2 linked regions of the Homo sapiens genome follow. The protein of the gene in region 1 purifies or fractionates together with the protein of each later gene. This does not show direct contact. Each region holds a gene or a part of one and is shown on either strand. Other genes may lie near its edges.

The links.
Region 2: the proteins of SHOX (region 1) and KLHDC8B purify together in Homo sapiens (affinity purification with mass spectrometry; one large-scale study listed by BioGRID and IntAct). This does not show direct contact.

The regions. Positions count from the first base shown.
Region 1 is NC_000023.11:647,518-652,112, reverse strand, and holds the end of SHOX (short stature homeobox protein), read right to left. Parts: 3' UTR 529-4,595; downstream 1-528. UniProt on the Homo sapiens protein: Controls fundamental aspects of growth and development.
Region 2 is NC_000003.12:49,170,081-49,174,498, reverse strand, and holds the start of KLHDC8B (kelch domain-containing protein 8B), read right to left. Parts: upstream 2,902-4,418; 5' UTR 2,814-2,901; intron 1,864-2,813; 5' UTR 1,730-1,863; coding exon 1,354-1,729; coding exon of another isoform or gene 1,324-1,353; intron 261-1,323; coding exon 96-260; intron 1-95. UniProt on the Homo sapiens protein: Involved in pinching off the separated nuclei at the cleavage furrow and in cytokinesis. Required for mitotic integrity and maintenance of chromosomal stability.

The sequences.
Region 1 (4,595 bases):
TTGCTACTAAAAATACAAAAATGAGCCGGGCGCGGTGGTGCAGGTGACTGTCATCCCAGCTACTCGGGAGGCTGAGGCAGGAGAGTCGCTTGAACCCGGGAGGCGGAGGTCGCGGTGAGCCGAGATCGCGCCCCTGCACTCCTCCGGCCTGGGCGACAGAGCGAGACTCAGTCTCAAAAAAAAAAATAAATTAATTAATTAAAGAAAGTGGAGAATTAGCAGCTCTGACTTGATTCAAATCAGGGCTTTTTCCTCTGTTTTTTTTGCCACCTTCTGGGGGGACGTTGGCTGAGAAGCGGGGAGGTAGGTTTCAGTAAAGGAAGGGGATGGGATACAAGCAAAAGTCAATGGTACCTCCCGATCTAAGGCTGGGGGGCAACACTGGGTACCCACCCTGGAAATGCACGGAGCAGAACAACACTCTGTGTTCAGCCACGGCCGACTCAGGATTTTTTTTTTTTTTTTTTTTTTCCAATAAGCCTGTCCTCAGGGGAGAGGTTGAGAATTTTTTTTTTTTTAACACTTGAATACAAATATTTATAAGTTTATTTATATCTCAGTTTTACAAGATGTACATTCATACTACGGGGCGTCACAAAAATACAGTCTGTTGCTGCAACTCAACATTGAGATTATTGAACGTTAGGAGAATGAGGGCGTCACCAGAGAAACTCAGGGTGGTTTTTTTTGGTTTTTTTTTCTGTTTGTTTGTTTGTTTTTTTTCTACCCCTCACCGCCTGCCGACAATAACAGAGGGATAGAAATGTGAAGACTGTTGGTTTGGGAAACGGTGTGTGATTTGTTTTCATCTGAAGCAATCCCTGAAAATATCTGTAGATGTATTTGTAACCCGGACGCGGGGGCCGCTATGTCGTCAATGGGGGAGGGAAAAAGAAAAAGCAACAGTTTTCAGAAATATAAAAATAAATGCAACGCGATGTCAAATTTACACTCGACATAATTAAAATAGTACATATTTATGAACGTCCGACCAAGGAAAAAAAAATAAATAACAAATGCACATACATCACAAAGTAAGAAGCAGGGGCTTTTGCCTCCTTCCCACGGGACCTGCACGTACAATGGGCTGAACTCGTGAAGCCACATCCCCTTTCAATAAATAGCACATTTCATAGCTTTGAAACGGGATATTGTCTACATTCCTTAACCGGCTTCTCATTAAATATCAAATTTCAATAAAACATTTATAAATGGCATCAACTTACCCACGTGTGTCGAAGAATATCAGCATATACTCGCTAAGCTAATTCTCTTTAATAAATTAGGCACCAGTTTTTTTTTTTTTTTTTTTTTTTTTTTAATGTCAAACGTGTCCACCGAAAGCCTCTCTCCTCCCCAGACCTCCCAAAGCTGGAGGAGACAAGCGGCTTCCAGCAAAGTGCCTCCGAAATGTGTGTCGTGGGAGTGGCTGCCGTGTGCCATCCTCGCTATGTCCCCGGGAAAACTGTGGAGCTAAAGGGAGCTGGAGGCTTCTGCTTGTTCTTAGGGGAAAACAAATGTTAGAAAGGTCAGCATGAAACCCAGAGGCGAGGACAGAGGACTCTGGTATTTCCCTTTCATCCTGACCAGAGCTTGGCACCAAAACCTGAAACCCGTCTCGGCTTCATTTCGGTTAAACGCCCAGCTGTCCCCAGACTCTGCGGTATCCACAGATGCTCCCACGTGCTGACGTGGCCAAGGACAGCAGCAAGACCAGAACAGAAACTCAGGCTTCCAAGGAAATGGGACCATTTCGGGGGCCTGGCTGGACTTTGGCGGGATGGAGAGGCCATTCCTACGACAGGGCGTCTTTGGAGCGGCCCAAAGGCCTCCTTCCCGTACGGGAGACACCAAGCCCGTCGCACCACCAGCTTTGTAAGTGGAAAAACGGGTGTTGGACGCGGTCAGTTACGCTCTAAATCGTACAGAGGCACAGAATCTGTCCCATCTCTTTATCCACGGCGCTGGAGAAGACAGCCACAGCCAAGGGGCCCTGTCACCACTGCCTGTGAAACAACACCCCAACGGCCACCAGAGAAGGTGCATTTTTCTAACTCTTGGCAATTGCCAGGAACACACCTTTGCAAAGTATGCACCAGTCAGAGACTCGAACGGAGAAAGAAAATCTAATAGCAACATCCGATACATCCAATTCCTTCTCCCTGTGGGTGCTTCGCAGTCAGAGAGAGAGAAAAGAGAGAGAAAAGTGGATATGTCAGAAACAGATTTCACCAGAACAGCCACTCAAAGGAAGAAGTGTTTTTTGCTCAACTGCGGCGACTGACAACCCTCCACGGACTATTTGGCCAAGTTTTGGGGAGAGGAGGGAAGAAAATACGTATCAATCAGGACCCAACCCAGCATCGTTCAGTTCGGCCAGCAACGTGTTCCTATCAGTGTGCTGGAGCTGGTACGGATCTCACACACCAAATCCTCTCTCTGCAACGGCGTTACATCGGAACACAGCCCACGTTGCTCTCTGGGTGGTATTCCTTGCTCTGCGAGCGAGCTCACCGGGAAGCCACAGGGAAAGCAGGAACGTGACTTTCAAAAGAACCTTGTTTTGAGCAAAAAGCACCAAGAATCGCCAGCGTACACCCACCCCATAAATTCAATTTCTCACCTCCTGTGGAGAGACGTATGTTGTTTCCATGCTGAATGTTCACGCAAACGTGTCTCTGGAGGGCCTTCCGGGAAACCAAACCCACGCACATCACATACAGAGGGTCCCCATCAGCCCAGTCCTTCCTAAACATCTCAGAAAAAGAGAGAGGAGGCCGGGCGCGGTGCCTCACCCCGTAATCCCAGCACTCTGGGAGGCTGAGGCGGGTGGATCATGTGAGGTCAGGAGTTCAAGACCAGCCTGGCCAACATGGCGAAACCCGGTCTCTACTAAAAAATACAAAAATTATCCGGGAATGGTGGTGGGTGCCTGTCATCCCAGCTACTTGGGAGGCTGAGGCAGGAGAATTTCTTGAAGCCAGGAGGTAGAGGATGCAGTGAGCTGGGATTGCACCACTGCACTCCAGCCTGGGTGACAGAGTGAGACTTCATCGAAGAAAGAAAGAAGAAAGAAAAAGAAAGAAAGAAAAAGAAAGAAAGAAACAAAAAAGGAAAAGAGAAAGAAAAAGAGAGAAAGATAAAAAGGAAAGAAACAGAAAGAAAGAAAAGAAAGAAAGAGAGAAAGAAAGAAAAAGAAAGAAAGGAAGGAAGGAAGGAAGGAGAAGGGAGAGAGAAGAGGGCGTTGGTGGTGAGAACTGGTCACAGCCCAAGCTGAATTTCTTACTTCCTTCCATCCGAGAGTTTCAGGGAGAAAGAAGCAGCTAGCATACACGTACCCCACACTCATTCAGGGATCACTCATCCACCTACAGAAAGTCACCCAACTTCTCTCGCAGGAGAAAAGCCAAAGGCAGCCAGTGTCCACAGACACTCGTGTCCCACCCTCACAGTTCTCTGCGTTTGATCTGCTTCGGGGACCCATTTGTGAGGATGACACTTGGCCCTCTTTCCATATTAAATCAAACTGAAACCGTCCCCGCACAGTTGAGAGTCAGTAACTCCCTTTTAAAAGTTCAGATTCAGGCCAGGTGCGGTGGCTCACGCCTGTAATCCCAGCACTTTGCGAGGGACAAAGCGGGCAGGTCAACCTGAGGTCAGGAGTTTGAGACCAGCCGGGCCAACACAGCAAAAACCTGTCTCTACCAAAAATGCAAAAAAATTACCCAGGCCTGGTGGCAGGTGCCTGTAATCCCAGCTACTCGGGAGGCTGAAACCCTGTCTCTACTAAAACTACCAGAAAGTTACCCAGGCCTGGTGGCAGGTGCCTGTAATCCCAGCTACTCAGGAGGCCGAAACCCTGTCTGTACTAAAAATACCAGAAAGTTACCCAGGCCTGGTGGCAGGTGCCTGTAATCCCAGCTACTCGGGAGGCTGAAACCCTGTCTCTACTAAAAATACCAGAAAGTTACCCAGGCCTGGTGGCAGGTGCCTGTAATCCCAGCTACTCAGGAGGCCGAAACCCTGTCTCTACTAAAAATACCAGAAAGTTACCCAGGCCTGGTGGCAGGTGCCTGTAATCCCAGCTACTCGGGAGGCCGAAACCCTGTCTCTACTAAAAATACCAGAAAGTTACCCAGGCCTGGTGGCAGGTGCCTGTAATCCCAGCTACTCGGGAGGCCGAAACCCTGTCTCTACTAAAAATACCAGAAAGTTACCCAGGCCTGGTGGCAGGTGCCTGTAATCCCAGCTACTCGGGAGGCTGAAACCCTGTCTGTACTAAAAATACCAGAAAGTTACCCAGGCCTGGTGGCAGGTGCCTGTAATCCCAGCTACTCGGGAGGCCGAAACCCTGTCTCTACTAAAAATACCAGAAAGTTACCCAGGCCTGGTGGCAGGTGCCTGTAATCCCAGCTACTCGGGAGGCTGAAACCCTGTCTCTACTAAAAATACCAGAAAGTTACCCAGGCCTGGTGGCAGGTGCCTGTAATCCCAGCTACTCGGGAGGCCGAAACCCTGTCTCTACTAAAAATACCAGAAAGTTACCCAGGCCTGGTGGCAGGTGCCTGTAATCCCAGCTACTCGGGAGGCCGAAA
Region 2 (4,418 bases), on another chromosome or scaffold:
CATCCTGGACTGAGCCTGATCCCTATCCCAGCCAACCTATGAGGATGAGGATTTCTAGACTCTGAGCCCCCTTCCCACATTCCCCAGGCCCTTACCCAGGACATAGATCTTGTTCCCGTGCAGGAAGGTGGAGGCCCCATAGCAGGGTGTGGGCATGGAGGGTAGCGAAAGCCAGCAGTCCCGACGGGGCTCATACACACGTACCTGGGCCTGGGGGGCCGTGTCAGGGCCCATTCCCCCCAGAGCATACACCATACCATCTGCATAGAAAAGAGTAGTTCAGATTGTACCTCAGCCTGCCAGGGTACCCCACCCTGACAGCTGCCCTGGTAAGTCCTGGGGGTGGCTGGAGACCCATGTGTTTATAGCATCCCTCCCCAGCAACAGACACTCTACTACCTGCCTGCAGTGGGGGCTGGGAGATCTGGGATTCCTACTCTGGCCAGGGCCCCTCCGAGTAAAGAGCAGGAGGCAGCCGATCTAATTATAATCCGACTCTGTCTCCCTGGAGATGCTATGGCAACAGAGTCTGGCATCCAAGCAGGGCTGGCCTGGGCTGGTGGTCAGACCTGGAGGCCACAAGGTGGGGACTCCCCTCGGGGAGGAAGATGGGGGGATGGCTTAAGCCAGGGGTAAGAAACATGGGGATCTGCTTAGCACAGAGCTCAGTCTGGGGAGGAGGACTGGGGACCAGCTGGAGTTGGAGATGGGGCTGGGAGAGGAATGGCTTGGGTCTGCTGGGTAAAGATACTGTCCACAAGCCTTCTGCCCCAGGATCCCTGCCAGCACCTCTGTGTGACACTCTTTCATTATAGTAGGTTCTTGCCCTCTGTTAAACCCTCAGAGTCAGCTACGACATGTCTGGGGGCCTTAGGGTAATGGGCCAGTCAGCTGGGGGCTTCCATGGCAACCATCCCAGATCAGCTTGGCCTTTGTCCATATCAGGCTCCCTGGCGTGTGGGAAGGGTTGGGGGTGGGGCAGGAAGTCTAAGCACAGGCTCTGAGCCAAGGCCCTACTCCTCTCCCCCACCCCAGACTATTTATAACCCTGGGAGTCATTAGGCCATCCCACCCCCATCTCTTAGAAATGAGGAGTGGGGCAGGAACATGGCTGGGGTCTCCCATCATCCTGGGATCGGCTTGGGCTCTGCCTCCCACCTTAGCCAGAAAAGGCAGTTAATAGAAGGCAGCAGCTCAAATCTAGGTTGGAAAGGATACAGGGGACAAGGCCACATCCTGGGCACCCATGTAAAAATTACAGCTCTTGTTCAGTCTCTGAGGGTAAGGGACTAAGTCAGGAAATAATAAAAGGTGTTAGGGTACCTGAAGTGCCTTCCTTGGGAGGCCACTCACCTCTCTCCACAGTTGCAACCCCCATGGCTGCTTGAGGGAGGGTGGCCCGACGCTCCCAGCGGCCCTCATCCATCAGGAAGGCCTCTACAGCAGCTACCGGGCTCTGGACCTCATCCACACCACCCACCACTAGCACCTGCTTGCCCAGAACTACCGCAGCTGCACCAGCCCGGGCAGTGGGCAGGGGTGCCAGTGCCAGCCATGTGTGCGAGGCCATGTCCAGTGTCTCAGCAGTGTCCAGGGGCAGTCCAGCCCGGCCACAACCCCCCAACACCAGCAGGTGCCCATCTTGGTGTGCCACTGTGCCATAGACCCGGCAAGTGGGCATGGGGGGGAACACTTGCCAAGCAAAGGCCCGGCCACCTCCTGCAGACATGGTGTTCACTGCCAGTGGCAGGCCATGCTGTCTGCTCAGACTGTAGGCCTCACTGGGGAGGCATGACAGGGCCTCATCTTGATTCTGCCAGGGCCACAAGAGGTATATGACCAGTCCAGGGACCTTGCCTTCACCTGGAGGAAAGAGGGAAAACAGGGGTCAGGGCACTGACCGGCCCCTCAGGAAACAAATAAGCAGCCTGTAGCTAAGGGCAGGGCTGGCCCAAAATCACTGGTGGGAAAGGCAGGGGGAGAACCCAACCCCTCTGGCTAGCACACCACTGTGGAGGCCCTCCTGGAGTGGGAAGGAGGGCAGGCCCCAGGTACCCAGGAGCCTTTCCCCTTTCCCATGGAGGCATGAAGGATTCTCCTTCTCACCCACTACCCAAACCACTCAGCAACTGGGTCAAATCTGGGTCTAGGAGGGCAGTAGTAAGGTGACTAGAACAGGACTCTCCATCCAGGACCCTTCCTTTCCCCTCAACAAGCCTCACGCTGGTCCTGCATGAGGGGAGTCCTTACTGGCTTCCAGGGTGCCCTGGGCAGCCTGGGGGTCCCCACGCCTGCTGTCAGGGGTCAGACTCCAGAGTATCCTTACAACATCCTGGGGGCCATTCCACAGGGTTAATTTAAACCATTCCCACTAGTAAAAGACCAGAGTCAGGGTGTGTTTCAGACTAGGGGGAGGACTAAACACCAGGGTTCCACACTCTCCTCTCGAGGTCCCCCCTCAGGAGTTTGCCCATTCCAAACCCCCCCAGAAGCCAGATTCCCTGGTGTCCAGAAGTGGGGTTGGGGCGGGGGGCCGTTGGAGAAATCTCATGACCACAGGACTCCAGGGTCTGAGTCCAGGGCGTTTCCACCAGGAATGGGCAGCTGGACTTCTGGGTTCCCTCGCAGGAGATCCCCAAGTTCTCCAGCCACCCCTTTCTCTTGGTGGCTACACTCCTGGACCCCTGGCAGGAGGGCCTCTTGGCCCCAAACTTCCAGCTCAAGGATGTGGGGGGCGGGTCTGGGCTAACGCGCTTGGGGTTCTACACCCCGCGCCCCAAACTTCCCCTGAGCGCGGTTCCCGCGGGACTCACCCGCCGGTGCTCCGATGCTGCCAGGGTACGGGGTCCGCCGTTCCGCCTCCGTTGACGCGGGATCTGGCTGGGGCTGAAGTCGGGCTCTGGCGGGGCTCCGGCACTGCTCCGGCGCGGGGCGGGGCTGGGCCAGGTCCGCCCCTCGCCCCCCTCCCCCTCCGACTCAGGGAAACCTCCTCTCGCCTTAACCCTGCACATGCCGCAGCTGGAGCAGGGCGTGCCGATCTACGGTCATATGCAAACGGACAGATAAACGGACACTTGGACACTGGGCCTGACAGAATTTAGCGTCCGACCTCGGGCAAGAGTAGAAATGAGGCAGCGGCGAGCGACACAACACGTGTATGGCAAGGGGCAGTTCTGAGCCCGACCCAGCCTGGGTGCGCAGGCTGTGTCGAGCAGGCCAGCCGAACCCGAGGGCTTGAGGGGCCGGCGCCTGCCCACCTCCGCGGAGCTCCCAGGAGCCCAATTACAGGCTTCCCGGCGGCGCCCCCTGGAGGCCACTGGGGACATGGCCTGGGCCTCTGTCGTGTGGGGGCAGCCTGGGGCGCCCTTACCTGGGCATAAAGCAGGAATAGGTCTTACAGTGTACACTGAGGCTAGCGGGGGTGGAGGAACAGAAGGCACTGGCCCTTCTACAAACCTGGGTGGGGAGAATTCCTGGAAGGAGTGATACTGAGCAGAGAATGTGCTGGAAGAGTCAGAGGCCAGGGGACCTCCCAGTGGGTCACTCTGGCCTCATCCTGTAGGGCCTGAGAGACCTGGGCTACTCTGGGACCCAAGGCACATTATAACTATCAATTTTTAGTATCCTGAGCTTGCCTCTAACCAATTCTGGGGTCAAGCAAGAGCAAACTAGTGTGACAGGGGCCCACCTACCTCAGGCCCAGACCTTGGCCCTGCCTATCTTCTGAGCATTCAGAGTATTAGCTAAGTCTTCAAGCTGAGGGCCCATTTGTACAGGTCAGTGGTACCTGTGGGAAGAGGTCCTTGCAGTTGTCTGTGTCTGCTCACTGCCTTGTCCCCCTTTCATGGACAGTGCTTATCTTAGTTTCCCCCAAAGCAGACCTGGACAAAGATATACATGCATATAGTTAGTATGGGAGGTGAGGCCAAGAAACACCAGCAGTGGCAAGGAGACAAGGAAAGCAGCCAATAAAGGAAGTGTCATCAAGCAAGCTACCACTGTGGGCCATTGGGACCAAATCCTGCTGGGGATTCTGGGAGCCAGCGTAGAACATAGGCCTTACATCATTGCTGCCCCCAAGAACAAGGGGAGCTGAGATACTCATTCTCAAATCTCCATTAGTCATGGGTTGAGAGCTGTTTGGGGGCATTACCTATTAACTCCCTGGCCTCCCTCACATCTGGCCTTCCCAGAAGTCTATGGGTAGACCCTCCCGCATGACCGGAGAAGAGAGCCTTTGCTCTTTTCAGGGACTGTCAGTTGGATTCAGTCGGCCTGCACAGAAATGGTGGTGCCAAGGCTGGTTACAGACTGCACAGACCCTGACTTGAAGGCCTCAATCCTCCTTGTCCCACTTCACCTTGGACTTGCTCCTCAGTGCCCTCACTTGGGGCACTGTTTCCACCCTCTTGTGATTG